Homo sapiens: one gene and its partner. The protein of the gene in region 1 interacts with the protein of each later gene in a pairwise test. Each region holds a gene or a part of one and is shown on either strand. Other genes may lie near its edges.

Evidence for each region. The genes of interacting proteins can lie anywhere in the genome.
Region 2: the proteins of STUM (region 1) and ZDHHC24 interact in binary tests that used the Homo sapiens proteins (3 or more experiments, as listed by UniProt).

Annotation. Positions count from the first base shown.
Region 1 is NC_000001.11:226,546,770-226,550,513, forward strand, and holds the start of STUM (protein stum homolog), read left to right. Parts: upstream 1-1,994; 5' UTR 1,995-2,135; coding exon 2,136-2,337; intron 2,338-3,744.
Region 2 is NC_000011.10:66,539,034-66,542,777, forward strand, and holds part of ZDHHC24 (probable palmitoyltransferase ZDHHC24), read right to left. Parts: exon of another isoform or gene 1,629-3,744; intron 792-1,628; coding exon 496-791; 3' UTR 1-495. UniProt on the Homo sapiens protein: Probable palmitoyltransferase that could catalyze the addition of palmitate onto various protein substrates.

The sequences.
Region 1 (3,744 bases):
GGAGCCAGATTGCCTGCATTCAGCTGCCAGCTCTACCACTGATTAGTGGGGGACTTTGTGCAGCCTGTTTAACTTCTCTGTGCTTCAATTGCCCCATCTGTAAAATGGGGTAATAAATAATCCTTACTTTGTAGAGTTATGGTAAGGATTAAAAGAGTTAAAATGTGTAAAGGGTTTTTAGAATGATGCCTGGCAGAGAGTGCTTGGGTAAATAAGTGTTTGTTGAAAATAAAACAAATCTGCAAATAGTTAACTGTAGTCATTGCTCAAGTCCCTTTGAGTATCGCCTTCTTTGGGACACCTCCCCGAGGCCTCCCCCACGCTAGCTGGCTTCACAGATAGGTCCATGTTGTCGCAGCACCTCCAGCACATCACAGCTGCAACATTCCTCACTGTTTCTGTAAGTCTATCTTTGTAGTTGTCAGTATCTCTCAGCTCATTTCTTAGATTCTTGAAGGCAGAGGCTGGATTTTACTCATTTCTCTCTCCCTGGAATCTAAGTCTTAGTAGGCCTTCAATAATTGTGTATTAAATGGAAGCTTGCTATGATTTTAACCAACACAGTAACTCCAGGCCAGAAAAGGCTAAGCGAGTTCTTCTAAGCCATACAGGTTTTAGTGGCTGAACAAAGACTAAAATTTTTAACCCTGTTCTTCTGACTGCCAAACCTAAGCTAATGACTCGTGTGTGTGTGTATCTGTGTATGTGTACACACGCATGTGTGTGTCCACCAGTATCATCACTAACCCCTGGCCATTTGCTTTTAAAATTATTTTATTCAGAGACTTATACAATAAGTATAAGTATACAATAACCCATGTTCTTTTAGCCTCTTCTGAGACCCTGGGTTGTTTATAATAATAATCACTATTATTCCTGAAGGGAGGCTATTGCACCCTTCCAATTATTCAGACGATTTGCTGACTGTCTGGATAATTCCGAAGCCTTTAACCCCTCCCTAACGTTAGAGGCGGTAACTTTCATCCGTTTACTTTTTCCAGGTGCGGAGGCGAAGCAGCCTTATTCAGAAAATCGAATTCAAACAGGACCTCAAGCTGCCGGCTGTTGCTTCTACCAACTGCCCCATTATTAACGCCAGACGGCGCTGTGTCCTCACTGGCTCTTTAACCACCACGTCGGGCTCACAGAAGGCTCAGGTTTCCTCCAGTATAGTTCAGGGGATGGTGAACGCTTCCCAACAAGCCTGCAACAGGCGCATTTCTTTCTGCTTTTGGTGCGTGTGTGTAGGGAAGTGTCCCATCTTTTAACTAGTCTTGCGGAGACCTGGCCTGGTGTTTGCAAATCTGTTTCCTCTATTATCGATCCGATCTCTGGATTGCTTTTTCTCTGACACTTGAAACAAATTCACTCCTATATATTTTTTAAGTGATTTTTTTTTTTTTTTTTTTTTTTTACAAAATAGAGCTGGGGCGGGGGGGGGGGGGTCTCGCTACGTTGCCCAGGCTGGTTTCGAACTCCTGGGCACAAGTAATTCTCCCACCTTGGCCTCCCAAAGTGGGGAATACAGACGGGAGCCACTGCGCTCGCCCCAAACAAAATCATTTAAATCACAATGCACTGAAGGCCGACTAGGTGTCAGGCGCCGCGCGGTCCGTCCCTTGTCCCCATGTCCCTGGCCAAAGGCTTGCTCTAGATCAGGGGACTCAGCCTCGAGGCTTTCCCGACGGTGTCAGCCAAGCACACACTCCCAGTTCGCAGGGCTTCGTGGTCAAGGTTCCTAGTTCACCTGTCTGGGAGGGCGAGGTGTGTCCACCCCTTCCAGCACCTGGGCAAACAGCTCCCTTTGCGGTCCTCTTCCACTGCTTTCCCTCCGCCCTGATTTTCCATTCCTTGTGAGCGGTGGTTTTGGTTGGGGGGAGGGGGCGGGGAAGGGGCCTGGCGAGGAGGGGCGTCAGAGCGCTGTCACCGGGTGTCGCGCCGCCCTCCCCGCCCCTCCGCCGGGCGTGTGGGGACGCCGGAGGGCGGGAGTCTCCGCGAGCCGCGCGGCGCACGGAGCACGGCGGCCGCCTGAGCTCGGCGCGGAGCCCGGAGCCCGCAGCCGACAGTCTCCTGCTCCCGTACGCTGGGCGCCAGCTCCGGCCGTGCTGCCCGGCTGCCTGAGAGCGCGCCCGGCCATGGAGCCCTCGCACAAAGACGCCGAGACGGCGGCGGCGGCGGCGGCGGTGGCGGCGGCGGACCCCCGGGGGGCGTCCTCGTCCAGCGGGGTGGTGGTGCAGGTCCGCGAGAAGAAGGGCCCCCTGCGCGCCGCCATCCCCTACATGCCCTTCCCCGTGGCCGTCATCTGCCTCTTCCTCAACACTTTCGTGCCGGGACTGGGTAAGACACGGCTGCCGCGACCCTTGCGACCCCCACCCCGCCGCGGGAGGGCGTGGGGGGAGAGAAGGGCGCGGCCGGAGACCTCCTGGCGGGGCCGCGCGCTCCAAGTGCTGCGACCACGCGCCACCGCCCGCTCCTGGCGTCCCCGGGCAGGTGGCAGAAGCGCGTGGAGTGTGCACCCCAGAGGGGAGAGGCTGCGCTGGGGTCTCCGACCCGCAGGCGGGGCCCCAAAGAGCCGGAAACTTTGCGGCCAATGTTGGAGCCCGCAGCGGCGGCCGGAATGGCTCTGCCGGCTTCGGAGTAGGGCTCCCGTCCCGGCGCCCCGATTTCTGCTCCTTCTCTCCGTCGTGTGCATCCGTCCGCGAGCCCACTTCCCCGAGAGGAATGGGGTCGGATCAGAATGAGCTCTAGGGCCTCGGCGGCGAGGATCAAACTCCCGGGCGTCGAAGTCAGCTGAGCCGGGGAAAGAGGACGAGCCGGGCTAGATATACCTGCAGCCCCCTTTGGTTCGCGGAGTGCGGACCGCGTGGGGACGAGAACTCTAGCCAGAGTCTCCTCCGCCTCATTCAGGGGTACCTGCACTTCCGCCAGCACCCCGCAGGGCGCCAGGGGGATGGGGGATGATTTTATTAGTTTGGATGCATGTGGCCAGAGATGAACCCATAGCTCCCTCGGATCCCTTCTGTTCCTGAGAAGTAGAGAGTGCGCCGATGTAATTCTGTGCAGGACTCCGGCAGCCGGCAGGGGTTCTGGTGGCATCTATGTCCCACGTTTTAAAGCAGAGGCCCCTTACAGAGATGGTGCAGGAGGGTGAATGGAGGCAGGGAATGAGAAGTTTTCCTGACCCTCCCTCCCTTAACTCCACCCCCAGGTCTCTGCCTGCACGCCCCTCCCCTCCTCCAGCTTGGCACTGGCTGCTCCTGCGTGCTGGGAGGTGCCCCCCTCTCCCGTGCCCGCCCGAAGAACCAGGCGCCCCAGTGCCCTCTCCGGGAGAAAGCGTGCCCCTGTCGGCGAGCCTGTTGCCAACGTATGGTTCCAAGTTCCCAAGAGCAGAGGCCAGCTGGAAGGGGTTTTCAGTTTGACTTTGGCCTTTCTCACGGTCTCCTCGCTCTTCGCCTGCTTAGCAGGGGCCTCTGCTGCGGTGACAGCCAAGGCCACAGCCACCCACGCAGGACCCGTTCACTTTCCCCTCCGAGCTTACTTGTCTTTCTACCCTAAGGGGCTGCTGCGGCCAGAGCAGCCTATCTGAGCAGTAAGTTAGGTGGCCTTTAGTTGGGCTTCTCTCTTCTGGGGTGCCTCCAGCAGCCTGTCCCCCTGGCTGGTGTCATCAGATCAGCTCTCTTTGCACATTTAGACACTGCAAGGAGGCCAGCTGGTGTTAATCTAGTTTTATCAGAAATTCTCACC
Region 2 (3,744 bases), on another chromosome or scaffold:
ATGCCAAACCTGGGAAAGAATGTTTGGATTCTCATAGCCTGGATCAGTAGGACACTGCCTTGGCGTGCTGGTGCCCCACCCCCAACTCACCCAGGCCAGGGGAGGTAGAGCCCCAGCCCCTGAGACCCTCAGGCATCCTGCAGTTTCCAGGCCCTACAGAGGGTCCCAGAAACAGCCCCAGCAACAAAGTGAGGGGCCAGAAACTATGCAAAGATGGAGGGAGGCTGAGAAACAAGTCAGTGCTTTATTAACCTGGCAAAGGGGCAGCTAGGCGGCCTGAGCAGCCCCTGCCAGACCCTCCTCTGCACTCCTCTGCCTAAGTCACGGCCCAAGCCCTGGACACGTAGGAGTGTAGGCGGGCAGGGGCAAGGCCAAGGAAGGGGTGGAGTTGTCCAATGCAGATGTTAAGGTCCAACCCGACTTCCTTACTGAGTCTAGGTGTGGGGGCCCCCCTCTCACCCCTTCCTCCCTGCACAGCTCTGGCTCTTCCTGGAGTCAGGAGGCTGTGTGTCCCACATCTGCTGTGGTCTGGAAGGTGATCCCATCCCCAGGCAATGGGGAGGCCAGGAAGGGCCAGAGCCAGACGAGGGCCCAGCGGGGCCCCAGGGCTGCCTGCAGGTTGTGGCAGGGACCCAGGTCATAGGAGTGCTGGCCCCGAGCCCACTCCCATGTGGTCTGGCCCCGCAGCAGCAGCATCCCATGGAAGAGCAGCCCAGCCCCGCACAGCAGCGCACCCGCCACGCACGTGTCCGTCACGAAGGCCAAGGCAAACTGTGCCAGAGACACTCTGCCTGCAATAAAAGAGCAGAGAGGGTCAGGGAGGGGCAGTGGGGTCCGGCTTTCCTGCCACCTGCTCCCCTCCACCACAAAGCAGGGCTCATTCCTCCGCTCAGCAAACCCTGTGTCGATACTCGCTGGCCAGCCCGTGCTGGGTGACAAGAACGCACTGGTAAACTGGGCAGACGCAGCCCCCTACTTGGGATACGGCTTCATTCCTGCATCACAGACTTGGTGAGCACCTCCTCAGCCCTGGAGGCGGTGCCAGGCACTAGAGGGTGTCTCTGCCCTTGGGGAGCTCACAGACATTAAAGAGGCCATTCTTGGCTGGATGCGGTGGCTCACACCTGTAATCCCAGCACTTTGGGGGGGCGAAGCAGATAGATCACCTGAGGTCAGGAATTTGAGACCAGCCTTGACAACACGGTAAAACCCCGTCTCTACTAAAAAATACAAAAATTAGCCAGACGTGGTGGCAGGCGCCTGTAATCCCAGCTACTCAGGAGGCTGGGGGGCTCAGGCAGGAGAATCGCTTTAACCTGGGAGGCAGAGGTTGCAGTGAGCTGAGATCACGCCACTGCACTCCAGCATGGGCAACATAGCGAGACTCCCATCTCAAAAAAAAAAAAAAAAAAAAGGCCGGACGCGATGGCTCGTGCCTGTAATCCCAGTATTTTGGGAGGCCGAGGCGGGTGGATCACGAGGTCAGGAGTTCCAGACCAGCCTGACCAACATGGTGAAACTCCGTCTCTACTAAAAATACAAAAATTAACCGGGTGTGGTTGCGCACGCCCGTAATCCCAGCTACTCAGGAGGCTGAGGCAGGATAATCGCTTGAACCCGGGAGGTGGAGGCTGCAGTGAGCCAAGATTGCGCCATTGCACTCCAGCCTGGGTGACAGAGTGAGAAAAAAAAAAAAAGCCATTCTCAGTTACTTAATGTGTGCCGCCACAGAAAAGCCAGTATCCTGTGCCATCTTGGCCCACAGTCAGCAACAAGTACCTGCTGAACTAACGGACTACGAGAGGCCATGAAATGTTACTCTAAGTGAGAGAAGCCAGGCACCAAAGGTCACATGTTTATCATCCCACTTATGTGAAACATCCTGAATAGGCAAGTCCACAGAGACAGAAAGATTAGTGGTTGCCAGGGGCTAAGGGGATTAGGGAGGAACATGGAGGGACCACTAATGGGTACGGGGTTTCTTTTTAGGATGAAAATGTTCTGGAATTAGACAGTGGTGATGGTTGCACTACATCATGAATGTACTAAAAGCCACTAAATTGTACACTTTAAAATAGTTAAAATGGGCCGGGTGTGGTGGCTCATGCCTGTAATCCCAGCAATTTAGGAGGCTGAGGCAGGTGGATCACCTGAGGTCAGGAGTTCCAGACCAGCCTGGCCAACATGGAGAAACTCCGTCTGTACTAAAAATACAAAAAATTAGTCGGGCGTGGTGGCGCATGCCTGTAATCCCAGCTACTCGGGAGGCTGAGGCAAGAGAATCACTTGAACCTGGAAGGCGGAGGTTGTGGTGAGCCGAGATCGCGCTATTGCACTCCAGCCTGGGCAACAAGAGCAAAACTCCATCTCAAAAAAAAAAAAAAAACCATTCTGTTTGAAGGTCCTGAGGCAGGCCAGAGGCACTTGTGAGACAAGCAGGTGGACGGTCTGCAGGTCTGCAAGCACAGGGAGAAGCCCAGGCTGGACAAACAGTTCTGCGAGTAGGGGGTGCAAGGCAACCCTGAGACTGTGGGCGCAGCTAGACCTGCCAAAGTGTGTAGAGTGAGGGGGGAATGGCACCTAGACAGGAGCACGGGGAAATCGGTTCTTGGGGATCAGATAAAAGATGAGAAAGGGCAACCACAAAGGAAGGTGAACGCACCAAGGTCCCAGCCATCGGTGATGCCAGGCGGAGAACGCTTCACGGGGGCTGGGGGCCAGCAGTGTCATGAGTCTAAAAGGTCTCATAAAGCAAGAAAGGGTCCTGGAGTGTGTGGAGACAGATCCCTGAGTGAGTGGTGGTGGCAGAAGCCAGGCTGGAGCAGGCAGGGAATGAGCAGCCATGAGCCTGGGCAAGTCCCTTGGGAAGCTTAGAGCAGGGCAAGCGCTGGAGGAGGATATGAGGGCAAGGGAGGGTTTGTCCAAGGTGGCAAACCAGGAGGGCAGAGAAGGCCTGGCCTGCAGGAGAGGCAGATGCCACAGCCTGAGGCCTCCAAGCAGGGAGGTAGGCACCAAATACAAGAAGCTGGGGGCAGTCAGCTGGGCTCGGGGAGTTGAGGACAGCACAATTTGGGATGTGCCAGCTGATGTCTCACTTTCTCAGTGCTGGAGCTTGGAGTGTGGGAGAGCAGGGAAGGTTTGAGCTGCTGTTGCTGGGAGTAGCAAGCTTACAAGCAAACGGGAAGGCCAGGCATAGCCGAGGGCCTGCTGAGGTCAGCAGCCATGAACATGGCATGGCATCAACCTGCCACAGACTGCCAATGCCTCTGGCTCTCAGCAGCCAGAGGCAGACACAGAGAAGCCAGGAAAGCACTGTGGAAGGAAGATGAGGGAGGAAGTTTGCGATGCTGGCAGGAGAATGGTGAGAAGGATGAGCTCTGAGCTGGACGTCGGTGGCGAAGGTGGAAAGGTACAGACGGGCGGTGAGGGCCACGAGCCTGCAGGCTCATGGAGCAGGTGCCAGGGCGTGGAGGAGTAAAAGACGGAGAGAAGAGGAGGTGGGCAGCAGAAAGAGGAAGATGGGTGGTTTGTGAGGGTGACTCATTTTTGGATTCTGACCAGGACTGGGGTGTGGACATGGGAGGAGGGAAAGGAAGGAAAAATGAAGGAGGAGGCCAAGAGCTAAGCCATCCAGGCATTGAGGGGGCTGTTCATGCAAACTTCCAGACACCCTTGATTTCCACAGGGCCCAGGGCGAAGAGAGAGTCTGTGACTGGAGCCAGAGTCTTCCGTGACTGAGGGGAG